4 linked regions of the Homo sapiens genome follow. The gene in region 3 interacts genetically with the main gene of each other region. Each region holds a gene or a part of one and is shown on either strand. Other genes may lie near its edges. The genes, in order: ATR, ARIH1, TIPIN and MCM4.

Region 1 (7,516 bases), on a different chromosome or scaffold from region 3:
TGCCTCCTGGGTTCAAGAGATTCTTGTATCTCAGCCTCCCTAGTAGCTGGGACTACAGGCGTGAGCCACCATGCCTGGCTAATTTTTGTATTTTTAGAAGAGATGAGGTTTTGCCATGTTGGCCAGGCTGGTCTCAAGCTCCTGACCTCAAGAGATCCGCATGCCTTGGCCTCCCAAAGTGCTGGGATTACAGGCGTGAGCCACCGTGCCTGGCCTAATGTTTCTATTTCTTAAACTGAGAAGTTGGTATAAGAATTTTTGGTATATTGTTCTTCTTTTTAAAATATTTCTCAAATACTTCCTAATTTTATTAAATGAAGATAATGATATGTAAGGACACATTGCAAATGTTTTACAAAAAGAAAGGAAATGGGATATGTGGGGCAGGCTTTTATGTGTTACTTTTTATGTATCTAACCCCCTTCTGAACTATTAAAAATGTACCTGCTCTTTTAATTATTGAAAAAAATATAAATAAGTCTTAGAAGTCCTATATAGAGATGAGTTAAAACAAACCACACAAGGCCAGGCATGGTGGCTCACGCCTGTAATCCTAGCACTTTAGAAGGCTGGGGCAGGTGGATCACTTGAGGTCAGGAGTTCGAGACCAGCCTGGCTAACATGGTGAAACCCCGCCTCTACTAAAAATATAAGAATTAGCTGGGTATGGTGGTGCGCACCTGTAATCCTAGCTACTCAGGAGGCTGAGGCAGGAAAATTGCTTGAACCTGAAGACGGAGGTTGCAGCAAGCCGAGATTGCGCCACTGCACTCCAGCATGGGCGACAGAGTAAGACTCCGTCTCAAAAATAAATAAATAAATAAATAAATAAATAAATAAATAGATAGATAGATAGATAGATAGATAAATAAAACAAACCACACACACATTCTTGTGAGCACTTACAATAGCTATCTGAAATCCTACAGCTTAATGTTAGAAGATTAGCGGCAAATGTGGTCAACTTTAAACAGCCATCATCAGAATGGGAATAAATCCATGGAAGTGAGAGCATACCACATAAATCTTCCAGGATATGATCTTCAAATGAACTGTTTACTACAGAAGCACAAAATAAGTCATTAATTATAACTTTTCCTTAATCATATCTCTTTTAAATAAAAATAAAGACATTTGAAATACTATCATAATGATCATTGGATAAGCAGAAATTCTTAACACAGAGATCTATAAACGATGGTCTGAGGTCTGTGAACCCAAAGAAATTAAATGTGACTTTATAAAAACATGTTATCTATGCCTGTTTTAAAGAAGAATCACGGCATTCCTCAAACTCCCAAATTAAAAAACTTTGAAGTTATAAATAATTTCTATTGACTAAAGAATCAAAATATTATGCACATAAATTGGCAACTCAGAACTTCTATTATTGACAAATTTAATAGAACTGAAATCAGGAAAAAACTTCTGAGTATTCCAAACACGCACTTAGGCTTCAGGCAAAAAAGAAAGCATATTTCTATACTGATTATCTTTAAAGGTTATTCTGATCTGTTGCTAATTTGTACTCACCTTGCATATAAATCAAAGCATCATAAATTTTCACCACCTTATCAATGGTTGCCTCCAGGTCCAGTTTCTGAACAGATTCTAACAAACTTCTACAGCTCTTAAGCACTTTTGTGTAAAAATCCAATGACATCCAAGTTATCACTACAGAAGGTTTCTTCTTGGATTTATGTTGACAGTCCTTGAAAGTACGGCTGCAGTAAGTACATTTTGTTAAAAACATTGGAATTAAGATGAATTTTGTTATAGTCAAACATAAAATTGTAGTAAAGCCAAAAGAAATTGTGAGTACGAAATTTATCTATAACAATTTAAAGTAAACATGCAAATCAAGTAATATGTTATTACTATTTTAAGTTGAATCTATTTATGTCAGCTTAAATCACCCTTAGGATTTGGGAACCAAATGACTTTGGGAGCCTGAGGTGGGAGGATCACTTGAGCCCAGGAGTTTGAGACCAGCCGGGCCAATATAGGGAAACCCATCTCTACAAAAAAAATTTTTTCTAAATTAGGGTGTGGCGGCACATGCCTATAGTTCCAGCTACATGGGAGGCTCACTTGAGCCCCGGATAGAGATCAAGGCTGTAGTGAGCCATGATCATGCCACTGTGCACCAGCCTGGGAGACAAAGCGAGACCCTGTCTTCAACAGCCAAACACTGGGTTTTGAGTTGTACACAAATGTGTTCTGGTACTTTCTAATCATGTGTCCCCAGGAAAGTCAGTTTTGGCTTCAGACAAAAAAGAGCCTCAGTTTCTCTGAGTGTCAGTTTCTAATTTTTAAAATAGGCATAATAGCCTTTACCTTACAGGACTATTGTAAATATTAACTAAGATATATACAGTGCTTAGCACCGTACCTAGCATTTGACTCAATAGAAAATAAATTTATTAACTACTTCAGTGAAAAGTTTGTGTTCTAAGGTTACATGAGTCAAGTGAATAATGAGTAAACAGTAAATCCAAGTTCATTACAGGAAACCCAACCCCAAGAAACAAGAAGTTTGTTTTACCAGTTCATGTTTTGATGAGAACAATGAACAGTACACAGAGCAGTCAGTTGTAAGACAACAGCAATTCCTTCTAACATCTCAATAACAGGATTCTTTAGGCCACTGTATTCAAGGGAAATCTGAAGGGATTCAGCTTTCTGTTTCAGTGCACTCCATAATATGCTCTTTTGGTTCATGTCCACATGTTTAATTCTATAATTATGAATATAGTAGAGAGATATTCATATGCAATATAAATTTGGTTAAAACATGAAACATATTTAGAATAAAACATACTATGTAATATCAACTATTCAAAAAAATTTTTTTTTTTTGTGAGACAGAGTCTCACTCTGTCTCCCAGGCTGGAGTGCAGTGGCGCCATCTCGGCTCACTGCAAGCTCCGCCTCCCGGGTTCACGCCATTCTCCTGCCTCAGCCTCCCGAGTAGCTGGGACTACAGGCGCCAACCACCACGCTTGGCTAATTTTTTGTATTTTTAGTAGAGACAGGGTTTCACCGTGTTAGCCAGGATGATCTCGATCTTCTGACCTCGTGATCTGCCCGCCTCGGCCTCCCAAAGTGCTGGGATTACAGGCGTGAGCCACCGCGCCCAGCCTGAAATTTATACTAAGATTTAAAACAATTAAAACAATGTTCAGAAGTAACTGAAATATGGCAACTTAGCCACTTTATAAAAAATAGTTGGTTAATGTTTTAAAAATTGCTAATAGATGCACAGTCTCAAAGATTTTTCACATATTAAAAAGTTAAATTAGATAAGCATATAAAAACATGCAAAGTAACTATATTTAACCATGAAATGTTTTATACTACTAACCGTCTACAATAATTATAAAAATATTTTAAGCACTCCCTTGGCTACATTTAGAAAGATGTTCTTTGTGTATTTAAATCAAAGCACTTAACTAAAGCTGATTTTTAAAAGTGAACAAAGTTTTATTTAATGGCTAAATACAAACTGAATGAAGGTCATCATACTCCTCAGTCTGTTTTGGTGCTCTTTTAGAAGGGTTTAGAGACGAGCTGAGACGACGCCTTTTGGGTGATATTCCATCACTATTACTGCTGAGGTTTTCCTGTTGAGTTTGGCATTGAATCTCCTCAATGATTTCCATACTTTCCATTTTCAAAGCTGCATAAAGTGGGCCCAACAAGTACTGAGAAAATAAAAAATAATTTCCAGAAATATTCCTTAGAAAATATATTTATATTATTCATAGGCAGCAAGAATGTATTAGATGTTAGGTGTTTTCTAGTGAAACTACTTTTAGAGTCTCATAAAGCAAAATAAACATCTAAATTGATCTATATTATTTAAGTCTATATATAGACTATGGTTCTATAGTCTTAGAAGGTTTAAACAAATCCTTCTCTCTACATCCTGTTTTTCCTCTTACCAAAATGCTATAAATTTTAATTCCCTTATAAAAAATTCTGTAAGGGAATTACCAACTTTCTTCATGTAACTTTAATCCAGCAAGATTAATAAACTAAAATATTTAATCAAGTTACTGCATCTCTGATGATTTTATTGTATTACCTGACTCCCACAGTCCAAATAGAAAAAAGCGCATAATTTGGCATGATTAATCATTCATAGGTTTTCTAAAAGTGATTGATTATAACTTGTCAGACACATAATCTGATTGACCAAAGCTTCTGCAATTAAGTTGGTAACTGCCCCCTTTTAATTAATAATGCAACAAATACATTTACACTTCACAGATTCTACTTAGAAACATTCTACTCCATTGGCAGTTCATTACCAACTTAATGAACAAATCCTTCTGAAATCAAAGTAAAAGTCCATAATAGTGAGCCAGACTACACTATGAAAATCATTATGTTCCAAATATAAATTACTATTAAAGATATTCTATTTTCTTATTATTACATTTTGCACATATGTATACAATTAAATGATGAACAAAATACATACTTAACTAGTAACCTGAAAAATTACTTACCTCTGCATCTACCTCAATTCCAAGCACATCCAAAAGAGCTTTACAAATATTTCTCACATAGACCTTCCTGACTTGTAAAGCAGATTCATACCCAGCTGGCACAAATTTAAGGAAATACTGCAGTAAATGGCACAAAGCTGCTTTTAGCAAATCAGACTTAAGCCGCATGAGCACACCGTCTTCAAACATGACACAGAGTTTTTCCAGCAGCATATTTAAATAGACAGGTTCAATATTTCTATAAGCTTCTGCTTCAAAGGGAAATAGTGTCTTTATCAGCTTTGATAATGGCTCTTCATAGAGTTTCAATTGGTCAGTATCCATTTCTACAAGGTGTTTTAATAATTCCAAAAATGAGCTGAAAAAAGTGCTAGCTGGTTGTGCTGGTAGTCCTCCAAGCTGAAAAAGTTCTGTTAAAAAGCTAATTGCTAGGGATTTAATTTTTGGACTACCATACTCTAGCAGAACACAACCTATCTGCCAAAGTAAGAGTTCTTGCCTTCTAAAAAACACAATTGCAATAATACGAGTAAGAACCATTAATAAAGTGACTTCAATAAATTCTAAATTTTGCATACTCATCAACTGCAAAGGAGCTGATTGTAAATATCCCATGTGTTCATCTAATTGACTTAAAAATCGGCTCATGACCACTGGCCATTCCACAGCATGACCCATCACATTTCTTCTATGGAGGTAAACCAAGTCTTCAAAAAGTTGTAATAATTCTTTTGTGAGTACCCCAAAAATAGCAGGACTCTTGCTTTTAAAAAGAAATAATAATGAACAGATGACTTCACAGATTTTCTTGTGTAACAAATGACAGGAGGGAGTTGCTGCAATCCGCAGAAGTCTCGTTATGATCCAATTACTGAATTCTTTGAAATAAACAAAAAAGATATTAAATAAACAAGTATATCCGAAGTGCTAATTCATTTGCTAAATCCTTGACGATTGACTTTTAAAGAATAAACTTCACTAACAAGAGTGTAAAACATTCTCTTCACAATGGAAACATAATAGTTTAGAACACAGGCATACCCAGTTTTATTGCACGTTGCAGATACTGCATTTGTCACAAATTGAAGGTTGTGGTAACTCTGCATCAAGCAAGTGTATCAGTGCCATTTTTCCAATAGCATGTGGTCACTTCATGTCTCTGTATCACATTTTGGTAATTCTCAAAATATTTCAAACATTTTCATTATTATCGTATCTGTTATGGTGATCTGTGATCAGTGACGTTTGATGTTACTATTGTAATTGTTTGGAGCTGTCATGAACCACACCGATATAAGGTGGCAAACTTAATGGATAAATGTATGTGTTCTGACCCACCGACCAGCAGTTCCCCATCTCTCTCCCTCTCCTTGTGTCTCCCTATTCCCTGAGACACAGTATTGAAATTAGGTTAATTAATAACCCTTACAATGGCCTCTATGTGTTCAAATGAAAGGAAGAGTCACACATCTCTCACTTCAAATCAAAAGCTAGAAATGATTAAGCCTACTGAGGAAGGCATGTTGAAAGCCAAGACAAGTTGAAAGCTAGGCCTCTTTCACCAAACAACCAACTTGTTAAAACAAAGAAAAAGTTTTTGGAGGAAATTAAAAGTACTACTCCACTGAACGCACCATTGATGAGAAAGTGAAACAGCCTTATTGCTGGTATGGAGAAAGTTTTTGTACTCTGAATAGAAGATCAAATCGTTAAAAGATGAGGAAATTTCCAGTAGGAAAAAAAGAAGATCAAACCAGCCACAACATTCCCTTAAGCCAAAGCCTAATCCAGAGAAAGGCCCTCAACATCAAGGCAAGACACTCCACCAGCACAAATATTACAACTTGTTGAAGGATGATATAATCGTTAGCATTTTTTAGTAATAAAGTATTTTTAATTAGGGTACATACATTGTTTTTTAGACATAATGCTATTCCACACTTAAGGTACAACGTAAACATAACTTTTATATGCACTGGGAAACCAAAAAATTCATGTGACTTACTTTATTGCAATATTCACTTTATTGTAGTGGTCTGGAACTGAACCCACAATATTTCTGAGGTATGCCTGTAACAACTTTGGAGTCAGACAGGCAAGGTCCTAGCTTTCCACTTACTAGTTGTATAAACTTTTCATTTCTCTGAACCTCTGTAATTTCATGTATAAGGAGAATAATGCTATCTATGTTATGGGTTACTGTGAGGACCAAATAAGAAAATGCACATGAAATACTCAGCACAGTTCCAAAGTAAAATAAATGTTCAATAAAGGGTAGCTATTGTCATTCTTTCAACTAAAATTTGAGTGGTGACTCTGTCTCAGGTACACAAGAATAAATCAGTCATAGTCCTGTCCTCATGAATCTCACAGTACAGTTTCTTGAGCTTTTTGACTGCAACAAAGAAATAACATTTTATATCATGACCCAGTACATATACATGCATTTTATTTAAATATTTAAAACAAAAGGTTCATTAAATAGTACTTACTCTTATTACATACAATGTACTATAATATTTTCTTTTTTTTTTTCTTGAGACAGGTTCTCACTCTGTTACCCAGGCTGGAGTGCAACGGCATGGTCTTAGCTCACTGCAATCTCTGCCTCCCAGGCTAAAGCAATTAGTGTGCCTCAGCCTTCCAAGTAGCTTGTACCACAGGCATGTGCCACCATGTTCAGCTAATGTTTTTCTGTTTTGTTTTGGTTTGGTTTGGTTTGGTTTTGGTAGAGACAGGATTTTGCCATGTTGCCTAGGCTGGTCTCGAACTCCCAAAGTGCTGGGATTACAGGCGTGAGACATCGTGCCCAGCCTATGATATTTTCTAGTTTATTTCATCTTGTTTTAAATGCTGATAATTGCCTAATTTCATAACCCACTAGTGGGTTATGACCTGTAGTTTAAAAACTACTGTAGGAAAGAATATAGACAAACCAATGATTAGAGCACAGTTTAATAGCCTCTATGATAGATGAAATGCAGAACACTTAGTACTAAGAG
Region 2 (8,268 bases), 6.3 Mb from region 3:
TCAGGGGAAATAGTGATTTTTCTGTGGTCACCCAGCAAGCTGGTGGCAAGTAAGATCTTCTCTTACACCACACGTGGGGCCCTTTCAGTGACTTCTAAAGGGATAGGCTGATGGCAAGTGGCTTTTCTCATTGGCCTGGCTTCCCCTTGAGACTGGGGCGAGGAAAATCAAACAGCAATGACCATTTCCTGGGTGTCCTGTGTGTTTACAGCAGGCTATGTACTAGGGATTCACATAAAAACAACAACAAATTTCATTTAAACTTCACAAATGGAAGTCAAACAATACCACCTCTATTATACAGATATGAAAAGAGAGGCCCAAAGAGCTCAAGTAACTTGCCCTAAATCATATCCCCAGCAGACAGAGAGGCAGGATTCAAACCCAGAATTTTTAACCAGTACCCAGCAATCTTAACAATTACCCTCTACTGCCCCTTGGGCCCCCTGTCCCCAGGAGCCTGGCCAGCCAAAACTCACATCCCCAGGTGAGTGGCAACCACCAGAAGTGGTTGTCTTAGTCCTTGGAGATGCCAGGCCAAAGAGCCCAGGGAGGTCAGGCTTGGGAGGGGGCAGGAGGTCAGGGCCTAGTCTGGAGCAGGGAGCCCCAGGAGTCACCTGCCCCAGTAGTCACCCTGGGGTGACTGTTGAGGGCAGGGGCTGGGCTGCTGAGGGAACAGCGCTGGCTAACAATATTTTGGTAGGGGGAGTGCAGAGGCACCAGGGGGGCCTAACCCGGTGTGCCTCAGGAGTGGCACAGACTCTGGCAGTAGTCCTGCCGTCAGAGGAAGTCTGCAGGTGGGTCAGGGGCTATGACCTGGTGGTTTTTACCTTTTTCTTGGCTGCAGCCAATTTGCTCTGTTGAGTTTCTTCCTACATGGTGGTGTGGGGAGGGAGGCGGGGTTGGGGCCACATCAGCGCAATCCAGGCAAGACTGCTAAACACCTCCGGTCACCTGCCAGGTAGCTGTGCAACTGAGTCAGAGGAGGGATAACCAGGGCCACACTAGAACACAGAATAGGGGCATGGCCTCAATGCTGCCAAGCCCATTGGTTGATGAGAAAGATGAAAGGGAAAGGAGGTGTGGCAAGGCAGCAGTGTGTCCAGAGGACTGTGGCATCACAAGGAAAGCTGCCCATGCAACCGCTGGCCCCTCCCACTCTGGGAGAGGGGAGGGGCCAGCTTTCACTTGGTGTCCGCTTAGCTTTCTGCAAGACTATTCACACTGGTGGTCAGAGTTCCTTTCCAAGAAGACCTGAGAGGCTGCTTTCTCTCTCCTGCCCTGGACCCTCCTGTGCCACTGAACCCTCTTTCCTGGGGGCCTCAGACCCCAGGGCTCAGGAGGTGGGTGAGGAACGGACTCCACAGTTTCTTTCCTGACTCCTCACAGCCCTGCCCCAGACTTCCCCTTCCCAGAAATCACCTCCAAGGACCCCCATACAGTGCTCCCCACAACCTCCCTCTCAGAACGCCCCCTTCCTAGAGGGTCCCTACCCTGATCCTGGGAGCATATCTGCCCCCTTTCCAGTTGGATCCAGTCCTAGGCACTCCTACTTCCCAGCTGCTCTTCCTCCTGCACACCCACAGTACCCCTTTCTCTCAGAGTGGGCCATGGGTCCAATCAGGCATTTCCCTCGGATTCCTCTCCTTGACTGAACCAGGACTTACACAAAGTTGCCACGGGGCCTTCCGATCCCCTGCGAGTATGTCTTTCCCACCCCCCACTGCCAAAGTCCCCATCCCCGAGCCTCCCTCCGTGTGAGTCACTGCCTCCCCTGGCCCTCCTCTCCATCCCAACAGCAGCCAATCCCCCTCTTCCAGGTCTTCTCCCAGCTGACTGAGGACCTCCAGGTCATTTCTCAATCCCTCTCCTTCCTTTCCTCCTGCCCACCAGTCTTCAAATAAGTGCTGTCCTGTCCTAGGCCAACTCCTCTACCTCCCCATCCTGTCTCCTGCCTCTACAGATGCCTTTCACTCCAGTCCAGTACTAGCTATCTCTCCTGCTCACTGGTTTCACCCCTTACCCAGCCATAAACAAACCCACAGCTCCCCAGTCAGGAAAATGCTTGGTGTTCACCCTGGCCACTCCTTTAGCTGCTAATAATCTCTCCTCTTCTGTTGCAAGCCATCCCCAAAACTCAGCCTCCACCTTCTCTCATCCCCCAGATGGAGTTGCCACTACCACTACCTCCACTCTCAAGTTACATTGTGAAAGACTTGGTATTTGTTTGTTCATTAATTTAGCAACTGCGGGGATGCAGGTTTGTGCCAGATGGCCCCTGCCCTCCAAGAGGCACAGGCAAAAAAAAAAAAAAAAAAAAAAAAAAAAAAAAAAAAACAGTTCCAGGACAAGTATGCACATGGTTCTGAGAAGGGGAGCCCAAGCTTGGGCTTGCAAAGAAGCCTCCCCAGAGATGGCAAGGTCAGAAGCAAGGCCAGAAGGGCGAGCCACAGTGAGCCCAGATGATGATGACAGGGAGGCAACCACAGTTTGCCAAAAGCATTGGGCTGATTTCGTTTCGCTCTGAGAATGAATTGGTATCTGCTATCTTTGACCATGGGTGACTGACTGCAGATCATGCCTTTTTCATTCATGTTAATTCATTCCTTACCTTTTTTTTTTTTTTTTTTTTTTGAGACATGTCACCCAGGCTGGAGTGCAATGGCACTAACTAGGCTCACTGCAACCTCTGCCTCCCAGGCTCAAGCCATCCTTCCACCTCAGCCTCCCCAGTAGCTGGGACCACAGGTGTGTGCCACCACACCTGGCTAGTTTTTTTGGTAAAATTAGCCCCAGTACAGACGGGGTTTCTCCATGTTGCCCAGGCTGGTCTCGAATTCGTGAGCTCAAAGCAATCTGCCTGCCTCAGCCTCCCAAACTGCTGGGATTACAGGCATGAGCCACTGTGCCCAGCCTGGAAAAAAAATCCACTTCTAATCTAGCAAATTTTGTGTTCTTGTTTACTATTTTAGCATTAATAACACCAAGTGACTAACATTCTCCTCATGAGCGCTATGCTAGGAATAAAAGCTTGCCACGGTGGAATTATCTAAACTAGAAGAAATCAATACCATGGATCCCAACAAAAATCAACAAAAGGGACCACATGTTCATTTTATCTGATATATTTCTGGAAAAAAATGTTTGCCATAGCAAAATGGAGACGGGGAGCCAAGCAGCAAAATACATCCGTAGTGAGGTACAGAAAACAGTATCCACTAGAAATCTTTTCAGGAAGGGTGCCATTTTGGGTTGGAGAAACTCCTTGAAAGTTAATTTGGGGGAGAAGGAGAGTCCTTGAGGGACCAGGGTAAGGTCAGAACGTTTCCTGGGAGAAAGGGGGAACATTTCTCTGGCTAATAAGGGCACAGTGCCGGACAGGGTGAAGAAGAAAAAGTCAGTCAAGAGTGGTACATTTCAGAGCATGAAAGGCCTCACACTGCATAAAATAGACTACACCTTAAGACTTCCAATTTTCAGTAAGACTCTTAGGCCCATATAAAATTCAGGAGCCTGTGGATTTTTTGGTGTGGAAACCACTGAAGAGGCAGATTGTACATCTAAATTGCAAGGGCGAGACTTAAGTATGAATTGGGAATTTAGAGTGTAGCAAATTAGTCAGACATTAGATAATAAGTAAGCAAAGTTTATGAACAATTCACCAAGAAATACAAATGGCTCTTTAACATATGAAAATATAACTGTGCAAGGAAAAAAAACATGCAAATTAGTTTCCAAGAGATACTTTCCATTTCTTGCATTGGCAAAGAACAAAAATTTCACTGACATAATTGTGAGGACAAATGCATTCACTAGTGGGAATTCATAAAACTTCCATTGAGAGCAGTTTGGCAATAACTACCAAAATTAAAAATGCACATAATCTTTAACTGAATTATTTCAATTCTAGTAATTTATTCTATAGGCATAGATGTGGGAAATGACTTTACATACAAAGGTATTCAATGCAGCATTATTTGTAATAACCAATGCCTAAAACCAACCTAGATAGAGGTTAAATAAATTATAAGTCCATATTATATGGCGCATGAAAAAGAAAGAGGCAACTATTTACATATTAATATTGAATAATTGCCAAGATATATTATTAACAGATAAAGTGCAGAAAATGCATATAGTATCTGTATTAATAAAAAGGCAAAAATAAAGAGGAATATTATATACATAATTGCTTGTATACTTAGAAAATATTTCTGGAAGGATATTCAAAATGCTAAAAGTGGTTCTAAAGAGGAGAACTGGGTAGCGGGGGGACAGGGAAGAGAAGACTTTTTACTCTATACCTTTAATACATTTTGAATTTTGTACTATATGGATGTATTACCTACTCCAATAATAGCGACTAAGAAAGTGAAAAGCACAACATACCAAGAATTGTGATAAATGCTAAGAAGGAGAAATATAGAACAGTTAGAACAAACAATGGGGAGCCAATCTAGACTTGTTTGGACAGGGAAATTTTTCCTGGGTAAGAGATGTTTAAAATGAGACCTAAAGGGTAAGGCATTAGCTTAGGGAAAGGGGATGAAGACATGTGCAGGCCAGGAAAGAATTCTAAGGCAAAGGAAGAACTTGTGCAAAGGCCCTGAGGATGGAAGAATCTCAGCCAGTTTGCAGCACAGAATGAAGACCAGTGTGAAAAGAGAAAAAGGTAACAGGGTTGGTTGCAATAGGAGAAGAGGTAGGAGTGCAGATCCACAAAGGCCATATGAGGAATTTTATTTTAAGGGCATTGGGAAGGCACTAGAGAATTTTGAGCAAGGAATGGCATGGTCAGAATGAACACTTAATAAACTCATGTTAGCTCATGAGTAGAGACTGAATTGGGAGGGGGACAAAAATTGATAATCTAGGGTAAACTAAAGGATGCTGCAAATGAGATGATGAAACACTTCACTTGGACTAGTGTGATGGCAAAGGAGATGGAGAAAAAGTAAATGGGTTCTCAAGTTTAGAGGTGGAAAAACCTCCAATACACATGATTGGATATGGGGGAATGAGGGAAAGGGAAATGGATGTTAAAGGAAGATTGCCAGGTTTCTTACTTTGAAAGCTGCTGGATGAGTGGTACAGCCAATTACTGAAATGGGAAGACTTAAGGACAAAGATGTTTGTAGAAAGCTCATGAGGCTGTTTCCCAATATGTGAAATCTCCCTGAAAGGGGTCCTGTGAGGAGCAAATGACATTCTTTATTCAATAACTAGAAGCCATTGCTATAATGTTTCAAAATCTCTCCTTTGACCTCAGATCTTGTGAGGAAGATAGAACACTTTCTGTACCAGGGCCTTTTTCAATAAGAAAGGACATTGGTTTCTCAAATTGCAATCACTAAACCTAATGTACTTTAATTATATACATAATTAGAACAATCTCTTTTTAAAAAAACATAATAGGTTGGATACTATGGTTCACACCTGTAATCCCAACACTTTGAGATGCTGAGGCAGGAGGATTGCTTGAGCCCAGGAGTTCAATACCAGCCTGAGCAACATAGTGAGACCCGTCTCTACAAAAAATTTTAAAATGAGCCTGGCATGATGGCATGTGTCTGTAGTCCTAGCTACTTGGGAGACTGAGGAGAGAGGCTCTCCTGAGCCCAGGAGCTCAAGGTTGCAGTGAGCTATGATTGCACCACTGAACTCCAGCCTGGGTGACAGAGTGAGATCCACTGTAAAACAAACAAACAAGAAGTATGTTCACAGGAAAATCCCAGAAATCACATAGAACATGTTTCTTGTGTCACAGATGGATCTTCATTTCCCTTAGCAAATCTCCTCAAATGTGACCCTGCTTATCAAGATTATTCAAATCATATAGCTGTGCTGGGCATACAAAAAAAATGGCATTTATCTATTTTTATGGTGGGGGCTGAGGACATAGAAGAGGAATCAGGCATCGGTAACTTTTCAACACCCCCAATATATGTATAAACAAGGAGCTACAGTTGAGTTTTTACATTTTTAATGTTTTATCATTTGTACTGACAAGGTCCATAGCCAGCTTTGTTCTGATGCCACCTGCTGGACAAGTCTGTAACATCTTATTTCTCTTTGGAAGTGTCCAGTCCTCCCAAAACCTATACCACAAACGCTTGAGAGTCCAGCCAACACTGGGAAATATCACTTCAAAATAATATGAAGCTTCACTGGACTTCATGGAGGATTTTCAGTATGCCTATTCTTGATGCTACAGATATACTCAATAGCAATCAATGGTGAATGTGGACAAAGGCATAATACTGCATTGTTTGTGAGAAAAAATACTGGAAACATGGAAATGTCCATCACCAGTAACTGTTTAAATAAACTAAGATACATCCATATTAAGACATATTATGCAGCCTGTAAAAGTCCTCAGGTTGTTAAAATAGTTACATAAAACAAATAAAGTGTAGAAAATATAGTATGCTTCCATTCATGTTTAAAAAAATAATAAGGGGGAGGCCAGGTGCAGTAGCTCACGCCAGAACTATGAGAAGTCGAGGTAGGAGGCCAGGAGTTTGAGACCAGCCTAGGCAGCACAGTGAGACCCCTGTCTCTACAAAAAATAAAAAATAAAAGGAAGAGATATTGACACATTTTAGAAATACAGTTTGGAAAAGAAAACACAACCAACTGGTAAGATATTTGTCTCTGTGGAGGGAGTAGAGGCACTAGGGGAGTTAAGATGGGAAGGTGTTGCTTTTCTTTATGATTCTACAAAATTTAACTTTGTATTATCCATGTACTTTTACTTTTGAAAACAGTTAATGAGGCCAGGAGCGATGGCTCACACCTGTAATCCCAGCACTTTGGGAGGCTGAGGCGGGTGGATCAACTGAGGTCAGGAGTTGGAGACCAACCTGGCCAACATGGTGAAACCCTGTCTCTACTAAAAATACAAAAATTAGCTGGGTGTGGTGGCGGGCGCCTGTAATCCCAGCTACTCAGGAGGCTGAGTCACGAGAATCACGAGGCAGAGGTTGCAATGAGCCTAGATCGTGCCACTGCACTCCAGCCTGGGCAACAGAGCCAGACTCTGTCTCAAAAAAGAAAAAAATACTAGCTAATGAAATATGTAAATAAAACCATTGTTTAAACTCCCATTCCTAACCAGGCATGGTGGCTCATGCCTTTAATCCCAGCACTTTGGAAAACCAAGGTGGGAGGATCACAGGCAACATAGCGAGACCCAAACTCTACAAAAAAAAAAAAGCCAGGCATGGTGGCACATGACTGTGGTCCCAGCTACTCAAGAGGCTGAGGCAAGAGGATCACTTGAGCCCAGAAGGTCAAGCCAGCAGTGAGCTATGATCATGTCATGGCACTCAAGCCTGGGTGGCAGTGAGACGTGTTTAAAAAAAAATTTTTTTTTTTTTTTTTGAGAGGGAGTCTTGCTCTGTCACCCAGGCTGGAGTGCAGTGGCACAATCTCGGCTCACTGCAACCTCCGCCTCCCAGGTTCAAGCAAATCTCCTGACTCAGTCTCTCAAGTAGCTGGGATTACAGGCGCCCACCACCACACCTGGCTAATTTTAGTATTTTTAGTAGAGTTGGGGTTTCACTATGTTGGCCAGGCTGGTCTCAAACTCCTGATCTCAGGTGATCCACCTGCCTCGGCCTCCCAAAGTGCTGGGATTACAGGCATGAGACACTGTGCCTGACCTAAAAAAATTTTTTATTAAAAAAATAAACTCCTACTTCTGAAATTCACTAGTGATATGAACAAAGTCACAAGGAATATACCTCCCACTCTAGCAAACAACAACAAAAGGCCAGATGAGCTAGAAAATAAAACATATGTTTAATTCATCAGAAAGCTAAGGACACAAAGAAATCTAGGTTGGGTGCAGTGGTTTATGCCTGTAACCCCAGGACTTTGGGGTGCTGAGGCAGGCAGATCGCTTGAGCTCAGAAGTTTGAGATCAGCCTGGGCAACATGGTAAAACCCTATCTCAACAAAAAATACAAAAATTAGCCGGGTGTGGTGGTACACGCCTGTAGTCCCAGCTGCTCAGGAGGCTGAGGTGGGAGGATCAACTGAGCCAGGAAGGCAGAGGTTGTAGTGAGCTGAGATCACTACAGGCTGTACTCCAGGCTGGGTAAGAGTGAGACCCTGTCTCAAAATAAAAACAAAAACCAAAGAAACCTAAATGATCCAAACTCCAGAAAGTGCCAAGTCCTTCATAGGAGAGAAGAGACCCCCTAGCTGTTGTTATTCCTAGTTGAACTATGGTAGGAAGAGGAATACTACAGGGGGGAGAAAAGA
Region 3 (3,995 bases):
TCTTGACTCACTGCAGCCTTGAACTTCTAGTCTCAAGCAATCCTCCAGCATTGGGCTTCCAAAGTGCTGGGATTGCAGGTATGAGCCAGTGTACCTGGCCTAAATTTGCTGTTTTTAACACACATTGTGGGTTTGGAAACTATATAACCAAATTTGTTAAAACTATATTTAGAAAGAATTGCAAGTTGGTTTTGAATGAAGTAAGCAGGATTGCGTATATCTTTCTTAATTTCCCATTCAGTTTTTCCTTTCAAAATGGAAAAATAAGAATTATAGGCCCAGCACAGTGTCTCTTGCCTGTAATCCCAGCACTTTGGGAGGCTGAGGTGGGCAGATCACTTGAGCCTGGGAGTTCAAGACCAGCCTGGGCAACATAGTGAGTCCCCGTCTCTACAAAAAAAAAAAGAATTATAATAACTAGATACCATGTTGTAAACGAAGTTTCACCCAATATATTAACATTTTTAAGTGAAAATTATTTTGGCTACTTTTTTTTTCAGTTAAGATGAATTTACTTTTTCTTTTTGCTTTTTTTTTTTTTTTTTTTTTTTTTTGAGATGGAGTCTTGCTCTGTAGCTCAGGCTGGAGTGCAGTGGCGTGATCTTGGCTCACTGCAACCTCTGCCTCCCGGGTTCAAGCAGTTCCCCTGCTTCAGCCTCCTCAAGTAGCTAGGACTACAAGTGCGTGCCCCCATGCCTGGCTAATTTTTGTATTTTTAGTAGAGAAGGGATTTCACTGTGTTGGCCAGGGTGGTCTTGAACTCCTGACCTAGTGATCTGCCTGCCTCAGCCTCCCAAAGTCCTGGGATTACAGGTGTGAGCCACCATGCCCAGCTGAATTTACTTTTTCCTTTTTTTTTTTTTTTTTTTTTTGAGACGGAGTCTTGCTCTGTCACCCAGGCTGGAGTGCAATGGCGTGATCTCGGCTCACTGCAAGCCCCGCCTCCCGTGTCCATGCCATTCTCGTGCCTCAGCCTCCCGAGTAGCTGGGACTACAGGTGCCTGCCACCACGCCTGGCTAATTTTTTGTATTTTTAGTAGAGACAGGGTTTCACCGTATCAGCCAGGATGGTCTCGATCCCCTAACCTCGTGATCCACCCACCTCGGTCTCCTAAAGTGCTGGGATTACAGGTGTGAGCCACCGCACCTGGCCAATTTACTTTTTCTTTATAAATGGATGTTTTATTAGTACCATGTGAAACATTACATGAAGATAGCATTATTCTTGATGGCAGTGGCTTCTTTGCTGTCAATATCAAGTATACCTGGCAGTTGGTATTTAAAGCTCACCTCTGTTTATCATATACAACTTAAAATTTGTCCAAATGGAAATAAGTACTTTAAAGTTTCTTATGGATCACTCTGACATAAAACCTAAACGCACTTGGTTTTTATTAGACCTCTTTCTAGTAGTTTTCAGTTTTGTTTTTTTAGATGGGGCCTCACTGTATTGCCCAGGCTGGAGTGCAGTTGCTGATCTCGGCCCACTGCAACCTCCGCCTCCTAGGTTCAAGCGATTCTCCTGTCCCAGCCTCCCGAGTAGCTGGGATTACAGGCGTGCTCCACCATGTCCGGCTAATTTTTGTATTTTTTGTAGAGGCAGGGTTTCACCATATTGGCCAGACTGGTTTCAAACTCCTGACCTTGAGTGATCTGCCTGCCTCAGCCTCCCAAAGTGCTGAGATTACAGGCATGATCCACTGTGCCTGGCCAATAGTAGTTTGATTTTGAATAAGAACAGTTACATTTGACTATGATCCAAGAGTGTGAGTTGAATAACATTCAAAACCATTTTGCTTTTTTTTTGTTTTTTTTTGGTTATAGGATCTCACTTTGTCACCCAGGCTGGAGTGCAGTGGCACGATCATGGTTCGCCACCATAGCCAGCTAATTATTTTTTTTTTTATTTTATTTTTTTTGATGTTTTGTTGACATGGGGTCTCACTATGTGGCCCAGGCTGGTCCTGAACTCCTGAGCTCCAATGATCCTCCCACATTGTTGGGATCGGGCCTGGCCTCTCTTGCATTTAAAATGGATCTTAATTGTATAAAAATGGGCTTATTGGCTAGGCGTGGTAGCTCACGCCTGTAATCCCAGGACTTTGGGAGCCTGAGGCGGGTGGATCACCTGAGGTCAGGAGTTCGAGACCAGCCTGGCCAACATAGTGAAACCCTGTCTCTTCTAAAAATACCAAAATTAGCCGGGTGTAGTGGCGGGTACCTGTAATCCCAGCTACTCGGGAGGCTGAGGCAGGAGAATCACTTGAACCCGGTGGAGGTTGCAGTGAGCCCAGATCGTGCGATTGCACTCCAGCCAAAGTGATGGAGCGAGACTCCATCTCAAAAAAAAAAAAAAAGATATATTTAGAAGAAAGTGATCATAATTAACATTAAGTGATCTTAGACTTCATTTTACTAAACTGAGCTTTTGAAGAGGTTTGTACTCATGCGGTAAGATTGGATCAGGTACTTATAATGAATAATAATGGTATGATTTCTTTCAGATATGTTAATGAATACACCCAGGGCACACACGGTTGAAGAGGTTAATACTGATGAGGATCAAAAGGAGGAGTCAAATGGATTAAACGAAGACATTCTGGACAATCCATGTAATGATGCTATTGCCAATACTTTAAATGAAGAGGAAACACTGCTGGACCAGTCTTTTAAAAATGTGCAACAGCAACTTGATGCTACATCCAGAAATATTACTGAAGCTAGATAAGTTTCCATTAAGAGAAAATGTATCTGTTAAGTCATCGTCCTGCAAGCTTGGCGTTACTATGTATTTTTTCTTCTTGGAGTGAAAATCCTTAGATAGTAAAACTGTTATAGATTATTGTTTAAAATCTGATAATCTGGTATTTATTTATAATTATGCTTGTCACTTTAGTTAAATCTATTTGTTCTCTTTAGTGTTTGTTTTTATATAGGTATTTCTTCATAAAATGATTAGGAGGTAATAAGCAGTTTCTGCTGCTGGTCTGTCATTGAATGCCTTGTTTTCACTAAGTTGGGAGGTTTTGTTTCTGTTTTTTACTGCTCCTTGCAAAGCAGGGCTAATCCATGGACAGTGTGCCCAGAGTAGTCTAGTTGAAGTTTTTTGTTTTGTTTTGTTTTGTTTTTTTTGACACAGAGTCTCACTCTGTTGGCCAGGCTGGAGTGCAGTGGCACAGTCTTGGCTCACTGCAACCTCTGCCTCCTGGGCTCAAGCAATTCTCCTGCCTTAGCCTCCCGAGTAGCTGGGACTACAGGCGTGTGCCACCACGCTTGGCTAATTTTTGTACTTTTAGTAGAGATGAGGTTTCACCATGTTGGCCAGGCTGGTCTCAAACTCCTAACCTCAGGTAATCCGCCCCCCTCGGCCTCCCAAAGTGCTGGGATTACAGGTGTGAGCCACCGCGCCCAGCCTGGGTGAAGTTTTGAGATGTACATATATACTGAATATTAATGTCAATTTTTTAAAAGAAGTAAAAATTATCTTAAAAACTATCTACAGGCTTTATGGGAGGTTTTCATTGCTATATAGTTCTGCAGTTTACACTTTTGGTAAATACAAGATTTTTACATGTTTTCTAAGGAGTTACTTTAATAGTTAAAAGGTCACATGAAAGGCCGATACATTGCCTGGCCCTCATAGGTGCTAGGGTAGTTCAAAGAATGCTTTTTGGGAACTTACTGACTAGTTGGAGTGAAACTTGCAAAGTATCGTGGGGAACATAGCATCTCGGGAGGATTTACAGGAAAGACTTTGCTTTTGGTGGAGGAGATTCCAAGTATTGGGAAGCACATGTACAATAATGATACAGAAATAAGATTAAGGGGATAAGGCAGATTTTAGGAATGCTGATTTTGAGGTTAGATGTGTTAGGGCCAAATCGTGAGAACACCTGATTGGAGTTCTTCCTGCCAGGTAGAGGGGGTAGTTACAAATAAGAAAGGTTAGTGTTAGGAAAGGCTCTCCCACCCCACCCCCTCACCCCTACCCACAG
Region 4 (6,961 bases), on a different chromosome or scaffold from region 3:
ATGGCGTGGCAGAGGGAAGGAATGTGGCATGTGGGGAGAGGAGAAGGCTGTGAGCACTCATAGGGAGAATCAGGCCTGTCTGGGAAAAGTGCTCACATGGGGCACAATGGGGCTCATAAGGATTGCTGGGAGAATGCTGCAAAGGTAAGTTGTATCAATTTCACATACAGATGACACAGTCTTATTTCTTCATTAACAACCCCCAAGACTATGACACACAAAAAAATTACATAATGTCTGTAACTTTCATCTTAGAATTTTTAGGAGCTCAGTTAGGATGCAAAGCTCATCAAAGCACCAGGAACCTTCTTAATATCACAATGCTTGAATAACCTAAATGTGCCATCATGCACTTCAGCTCATGTACCAGGATGCTGAAAAGTGAACCTAAAAGACAGCTCATTCTGTTTTTTACAAGCAAAAGGAAGCTTACAGAAACTGGATGACTTTTTCAGTTTCCAAATTACTGTGTAGTGTTGCCTCTATTTGAAACCAGGTCTTTGATCTTAAATTCACTATGCTTGTAAGTACTTAAACATATAAAGTGTGTGTACTACCTACATAAATGAACTATTTCCCCCTTTTGCAACATTTGGAAAGATCAATTTTGCAATATGGGAGGAAGTAATAAACAGTTATAAAAAATAGTATATTGCTAGGCGCGGTGGCTCACGCCTGTAATCCCAGCACTTTGGGAGGCCGAGGCAGGCGGATCACGAGGTCAGGAGATCGAGACCATCCTAACACAGTGAAACCCCGTCTCTACTAAAAATACAAAAAATTAGCCAGGCGTGGTGGTGGGTGCCTGTAATCCCAGCTACTCAGGAGGCTGAGGCAGGAGAATGGCGTGAATCCGGGAGGTGGAGCTTGCAGTGAGCCGAGATCGCGCCACTGCAGTCCAGCCTGGGGGACACAGCGAGACTCCGTCTCACAAAAAAAAAAAAAAGAAAAGTTTATTATTCTTAGGCCCAGCATGGTGGCTTGCGCCTGCAATCCTAACACTTTGGGAGGCAGAGGCTGGCGCATCACTTGAGGTCAGGATTTCAAGACCAGCCTGGCCAACACGGTGAAACTCTGTCTCTACTAAAAATACAAAAATTAGCCGGAGTGGTTGTGGGCACCTGTAATCCCAGCTAATAGGGAGGCTGAAGCAGGAGAATCGCTTGAACCCAGAAGCACAGGCCACAGGCTGCAGTAAGCCGAGATCAAGCCACTGCACTCCAGCCTGGGCAAGAGAGCCAGGCTCTGTCTCAAAACAAGGAAGAGAACAGTATGTTATTCGTAACAAAATAATTAATATTTTAAAGGAGATGATTGGTCAGTTACATTAATGCTGTGGGCTACAGGCACAGTAAGCCTTTTTTCAGCAGGGTTACCTCGATGAGAGCCTGGCTGGCTTCCTCACTTAGCCGCGGCATGATGGTGCTGTGCGCGTAGGCAATGTAGTCCTTTAGCACCGCCATGTCCAGGAGCTCCTCCTCTGCCTGCTCCTCGCTCTGGTAGTACAGTGCGACCAGGTGGTGAGCCAGACGCCTGTCATAGGCTTCGTCCTGAGGGTCCAGCAAGAGGAAGATCAAATCAAACCTAAGAAAACAAAGTAAAAATACTGTTTTTCCAGCACCTTGTGAGGCCGAGGCAGGTGGATCACCTGAGGTTGGTAGTTTGAGACCAGCCTGGCCAACACGGTGAAACCTTGTCTCTACTAAAAATGCAACAATTAGCCAGGAGTGGTGGTGCCTGCCTGTAATCCCAGCTACTTGGGAGGCTGAAGCAGGAGAATCGCTTGAACCTGGAAGGCGAAGGTTGCGGTGAGCCAAGTTCGCGTCACTGCACTCCAGCCTGGCCGACAGAGGGAGACTCTGTCTCAAAAAAACAAACAAAAAAACCCAAAACAACAACAAAAAAACTGTTTTCCTAGTTGAGACACCAATACACCTACAAACGACGTACTAAAGACTGCTTGAGCACCACAGATGTGCAGTCAATGTGCACCCTGTGAGCGCCATCAGGGAGAAGCATCTTTGCCTGGTGTGGAAAGGGCCTTCGTGTCCATCCACTCACCCCACTCACCCTGTGCTGTCCCTAGTCCTTAGGTCGGCCCAGGGAACGGCTGGGGACCAATCAGCTGAGTCAAAGGAAGTCTTCCCTTAGGGAAACGTTACTATAATTTTGACGATGGAAAGTTTTTTTTTTTTTTTTTTTTTTGAGACAGAGTCTCACTCTGTAGCCCAAGCTAGAGTGAAGTGGTATGATCTCAGCTCACTGCAATCTCCACTCCCCCAGGCTCAAGCAATTCTTGTGCCTCCTCAGCCTCCCGAGTAGCTGGGATTACAGGCATGCGCCGCCACGCCGGGCTAATTTTTTGTATTTTAGTAGAGATGGGGTTTCATCAAGTTGCCCAGGGTGGCCTCAAACTCCTGAGCTCAGGCGATCCACCCACCTCAGCCTCCCAAAGTGCTGGAATTACAGGTGTGAGTCACTGTACCTGGCTGACAATGGAAAGATTTGAATGAAAACACATTCAACTGTTTTTTTGGGAAAAAAAACTTCTGTCAAAAAAAAAGAAAAAAAAGCAAGTAATTAAAACCTAAAATCCATTTATGAAAAATGTCCAATATTTGTAGTGGGGCCAAGAGTGAAGATTATGTGATTGCACTTTAATAAATCTAACTTTTCAGAGCCTCATCTACTGTACGGAATTGTTCTCTGTTGACTCTCAGCAGTGGCTTTAGGACTAAGAGTAGTGAGTGACAGCCATGTGTAAACGGCGTGGGAGGTAAACATCCCAACTGCTTAAAAAACAAATGAGAACACACATCATCCTTGTCGTGAAAACTCTTGACCAACCAAATTTGAAACATCTTGATAAGAGTGAAGAGTTTCCATTAGCAGTTGCTGAAATCTTAGTAGCTCCTTTTCAATCTCACCCTGAATATTCTACAAATGAACAAAATAAAAATCTGTTTTAATACCTTGATAATAAAGTATGAGGCAGCTGGATGTTTTCAATGGTTGTTTTTTTAGGATTCCACTGAGACTCAATGGGATTTGCTGCTGCCAGGACAGAGGTGCGCGCATTGAGCTGACAGATGATCCCAGCCTATCAGAGCAAAGAGTGCAGTTAGAAGCCTCTCCCTGACGCTGGCAATTAACAAGCACCGTCTTCGCCCGGCCACCTACTAAACCCATATTCCCTCCACTGAGTTTCTATTGCCTGAGCCATGTTGCCTTTACTGACTTCAGCAGTTCACCTGGATAAGCCCTGTCCTCAGATTCATGCCAAGGACTGAGTTTAGATGAATGTGTGCTATAACCACATCTTTCTCAGGAAGCAGGCACCTTGCAAGAGCTTTAGGACAAATTCAAGGCTAGTACAGCAATAAAGACAAAACGTGACACCCTGTAGAAGACATGTTGAGATTTAGCTGAAATATGATGTGGAAAGCACTTATCAATCTCCCCAAGTTAGAACCAAGGTAGCACAGCACAGTTCCACAGACCCTGTCTTTCAAGGGTCCACATATTTTAAACACGTCCATGTTCACGGTGGAGAAGGCGACTCACCTTTGCAATGGACAGAGTCTGCTGTTCCATGACTTCATGCAATACCGATCTTGTACTTTCATTCATCTTGTCGAACTCATCGATACAGCAGATGCCGTTGTCACTCAGGACAAGAGCACCTGTCTGCAGGACCAGCTGCCTTGTCTCAGGGTCTTTCATTACGTACGCAGTGAGGCCAACTGCACTGGAGCCCTTCCCAGACGTGTACTGGCCCCTGGGGACGAGGTTGTACACGTACTGCAGCAGCTGGGACTTGCTGGTACCAGGGTCGCCACACAGCAAGATGTTGATCTCAGCCCGAAATTTGCCCCTTCCAGTGTGACTAAAATCCTTCCTTGTCCCGCCAAAGAGCTGAAGCAAAATTCCCTAAATAATCAGAGACATGTCTAAACATTCATTTTCTGCACAGTTAACTGAGATGTAGTTTAAACTTTAGAGGTACTTTTCTCTCTTATAAAGAACTACAATTAAGAAATCACAGGAAGGTATAAAAAGGCTCGTGAAAGTGCTTGATATGCTTTAAGTTATCACTGACCAGTTCATCAGCACCTATCATTACACCAGAATGGTGGCCATGCAAGTCCCTATTCTGACACTGTGTGGCCTCTTCTGTTTAGAAACCTAAGTTTAGACCAGAGATGAGGATAGACAATGCTATGATTCTTCTCAACCAATGGCAAGTCAGGTTGCCAGCACTTGCTCTAACAGGCCACAACTCTGTCCTTTATGGCGGATGGCTCGAGTGGCGGAGTGGATGTTTATACTATTTGATCCCAAAGAATTGTAAATCCCAACCCCTAGTTTAAAATCCACTGTTACCTTCTTTATATCTTCATGTTCATAAATGCTTGGAGCCAAGGCTGAAGCAAGCCTCTCATAAATGTCTGGTTTCCTGGAAAGTTCCTTAAGCAATTCCACACGTTTCTCTGAAAAAAGTTTCTGTTCTGCTTCTTCATCAAGGCCATGCAGACGTTTTGCATCCGTTTTCCGATAATGAATGACATCAATGTGGGTTTTGTAGACAGACTTCACATTACTCACTCTTGGATTGACTCGAATAGGCACAGCTCGATAGATGCCTGAGGGCACAACCAGGAGATGCACTTTTACCTTCCCATATCTTCCTCCGAGTGGCTCAGCAACCAGCGTAGGCAACAGGTGCACTTCAGAGCGAGGCACCACGTCGGGCTGGCCCTGGAAAGGGTGAGCTCCACCGTCTCTTAAATGACCCTCCCAAGCCCAGGACTCAGGCCCACATTGCAAAGCTCCCGCTTGCTATGAGCAAGCAGGGAAATAGCAGCAGGAAACGGACAAGCTCGAAAGAACCAAGGTGGCTCATGTCTGTAATCCTAGCACTTTGGGAGGCTGAGGCAGGCGGATCACCTGAGGTTGGGAGTTCGAGACCACCCTAATCAACAAGGAGAACCCTGTCTCTACTAAAAATACAAAAATTAGCCGGGCGTGGTGGCACATGCCTGTAATCCCAGCTACTCGGGAGGCTGAGGCAGGAGAATGGCTTGAACCTGGGAGGCGGAGGTTGCGGTGAGCCAAGATGGTGCCATTGGACTCCAGCCTGGGTGACGAGAGCAAAACTCCGTCTCAAAAACAAAACAAAACAAAATGAAACAAAACAAAACAAAACAAAACAAAAGAGAAAGAACCCAGGTTTCTGCAAATGATAGACCCGAGGACGTGTTCACCTGGGCCCACTAGTCAGCAGTGCTCCAGGGCAACTGTAGCTACGTGAGCATGCCCACGGGCACAGTCACCCTGAGGGTGAAATGGAGCTGCTGTGCTTCTAGCTCAATGCTGGGTTCGTGGTTGTTTTTAATAAGCAGTATTTTTACTTCCCTAAGTTGAGTGTACAGAATCTGCCTAGCACTTACTTGACTGCAACAAAATGCTAAAATCCTCCAGTCATTAAAACTAGACTAGGTCCCCCCAACCTACCCACCACCCCCGACAAAAGCATGCAAATCATGCATTCTTCTGGAAGCCAGGCTCCTCACATACAGAGGTCTGATCTGATGTTCGTCTTTTCTGGATTTCAAACCAGAAGGCTTTAACTCCAGGCTGATTCCTGCAGCTTTTGGAGAAAGCCTGGCCTTTCCCCGTTACAGCTATCTCAACGCAATGGCACAGAGCACTGTCCTTGTTTATTCAGTGGGTCAGTGTAATTCTTGTTTAACACAACAAACCAGTTTACACACATTCTTAGAATACACACTATTCTTCACTCCAATATAGGCTAGGGATGGAAGATTATGTTTAAAGTGGCCCGGAATGATTTATCTCACAGAGCAGCATTGATACTTATTTCACATCTACACAGCACTTTCCACAGCCCCTTGGCCCCAAACACTCTCACACATGTATCATCACATTAACTCCACTTTGTAGGTGAGGAAACAAAAATATTGGACTAAATACTTTATCAAAGGTTTCAGGGTAGCAGGACTGGAAATGCGCACGTCACTCACTAAAAACTACGCATTCTTTCAAATTCTCCATGACTTCAAGTACTTTTACGACGGAAGATTGCCAGTGATAACTGCGGGACTTCACACTGGGGAAGAAACAGGGTGAGCACTGCCTCACTGAAGACAAGAGCCGATGCGTGGTGTGCCCCAGGCCCTCCGCTCAGGAGCAGATTCAGGCACTCCGCGACCGTCGCCACCTTGCCCATCAATGAAGAACCGTGCTGCCATCAACACTCCCTTGCCCCCAACCAAAATCCATTGTGACTCTACAGCATCAAAAGGAGGACTGCCACACTCATATGGTGCTGTGCAAAGAGCACTCTTGTGGCAGCAAGAGAAGGAGACCTGGGTCCTGGGTTCTGATTTACCGTGGCATCTGAGCTACTGCTGTCTATGCATCCCTGAACCTCAGCTTCTACACATGGAAACAAGTCACTGACTCATTTTTCTCTGTAACAAACAAATGTTAACCCTTGGCTATACATTTGGGAAATTAAGTAAAAATTACTTAAAACTCCAGCATTGGTGAGTAATACTTCTCTGAGCTGATGGCATAACTCAAAACTTTACCCATACAAGCCTGTCTGAGGCTGCTCTCTCATGATGCCAACAGTACTGACTTGAGACACACACAGCTCCAGGATACTGAGGTATCAAGAGGCGAGTGACCACACGAACCATGAGCTCCAACATTCAAGTTTGGGAAGAACTGAACAATTTCATACTGCTGGGCCATGGTACTCAGTTAAAAAGGTGGCAGATAAAGCAGGGATATACCCCACAGTCTCAAAGACAAGCAGTGACAACTGGAGGTAGAACTGGACCTGTGACCAAGTCCAATGACTCACTAAAGCACAGCATTGAAAGCAAGCCAGACATGCTCAAGTGCTGGTGCAAACCTACACTCTTACCTGTAA

What was found.
Region 1: changes in TIPIN (region 3) and ATR are lethal when combined (synthetic lethality), as found in Homo sapiens cells (one large-scale study listed by BioGRID).
Region 2: changes in TIPIN (region 3) and ARIH1 together harm fitness more than expected from each alone (negative genetic interaction), as found in Homo sapiens cells (one large-scale study listed by BioGRID).
Region 4: changes in TIPIN (region 3) and MCM4 together harm fitness more than expected from each alone (negative genetic interaction), as found in Homo sapiens cells (one large-scale study listed by BioGRID).

The regions. Positions count from the first base shown.
Region 1 is NC_000003.12:142,557,718-142,565,233, forward strand, and holds part of ATR (serine/threonine-protein kinase ATR), read right to left. Parts: intron 5,393-7,516; coding exon 4,515-5,392; intron 3,705-4,514; coding exon 3,526-3,704; intron 2,738-3,525; coding exon 2,546-2,737; intron 1,725-2,545; coding exon 1,534-1,724; intron 1,060-1,533; coding exon 907-1,059; intron 1-906. UniProt on the Homo sapiens protein: Serine/threonine protein kinase which activates checkpoint signaling upon genotoxic stresses such as ionizing radiation (IR), ultraviolet light (UV), or DNA replication stalling, thereby acting as a DNA damage sensor.
Region 2 is NC_000015.10:72,597,829-72,606,096, reverse strand, and holds the end of ARIH1 (E3 ubiquitin-protein ligase ARIH1), read right to left. Parts: 3' UTR 3,110-8,268; downstream 1-3,109. UniProt on the Homo sapiens protein: E3 ubiquitin-protein ligase, which catalyzes ubiquitination of target proteins together with ubiquitin-conjugating enzyme E2 UBE2L3.
Region 3 is NC_000015.10:66,335,691-66,339,685, reverse strand, and holds the end of TIPIN (TIMELESS-interacting protein), read left to right. Parts: intron 1-2,504; coding exon 2,505-2,728; 3' UTR 2,729-3,495; downstream 3,496-3,995.
Region 4 is NC_000008.11:47,967,480-47,974,440, reverse strand, and holds part of MCM4 (DNA replication licensing factor MCM4), read right to left. Parts: coding exon 6,956-6,961; intron 4,644-6,955; coding exon 4,384-4,643; intron 3,931-4,383; coding exon 3,565-3,930; intron 3,101-3,564; coding exon 2,973-3,100; intron 1,585-2,972; coding exon 1,377-1,584; intron 1-1,376. UniProt on the Homo sapiens protein: Acts as a component of the MCM2-7 complex (MCM complex) which is the replicative helicase essential for 'once per cell cycle' DNA replication initiation and elongation in eukaryotic cells.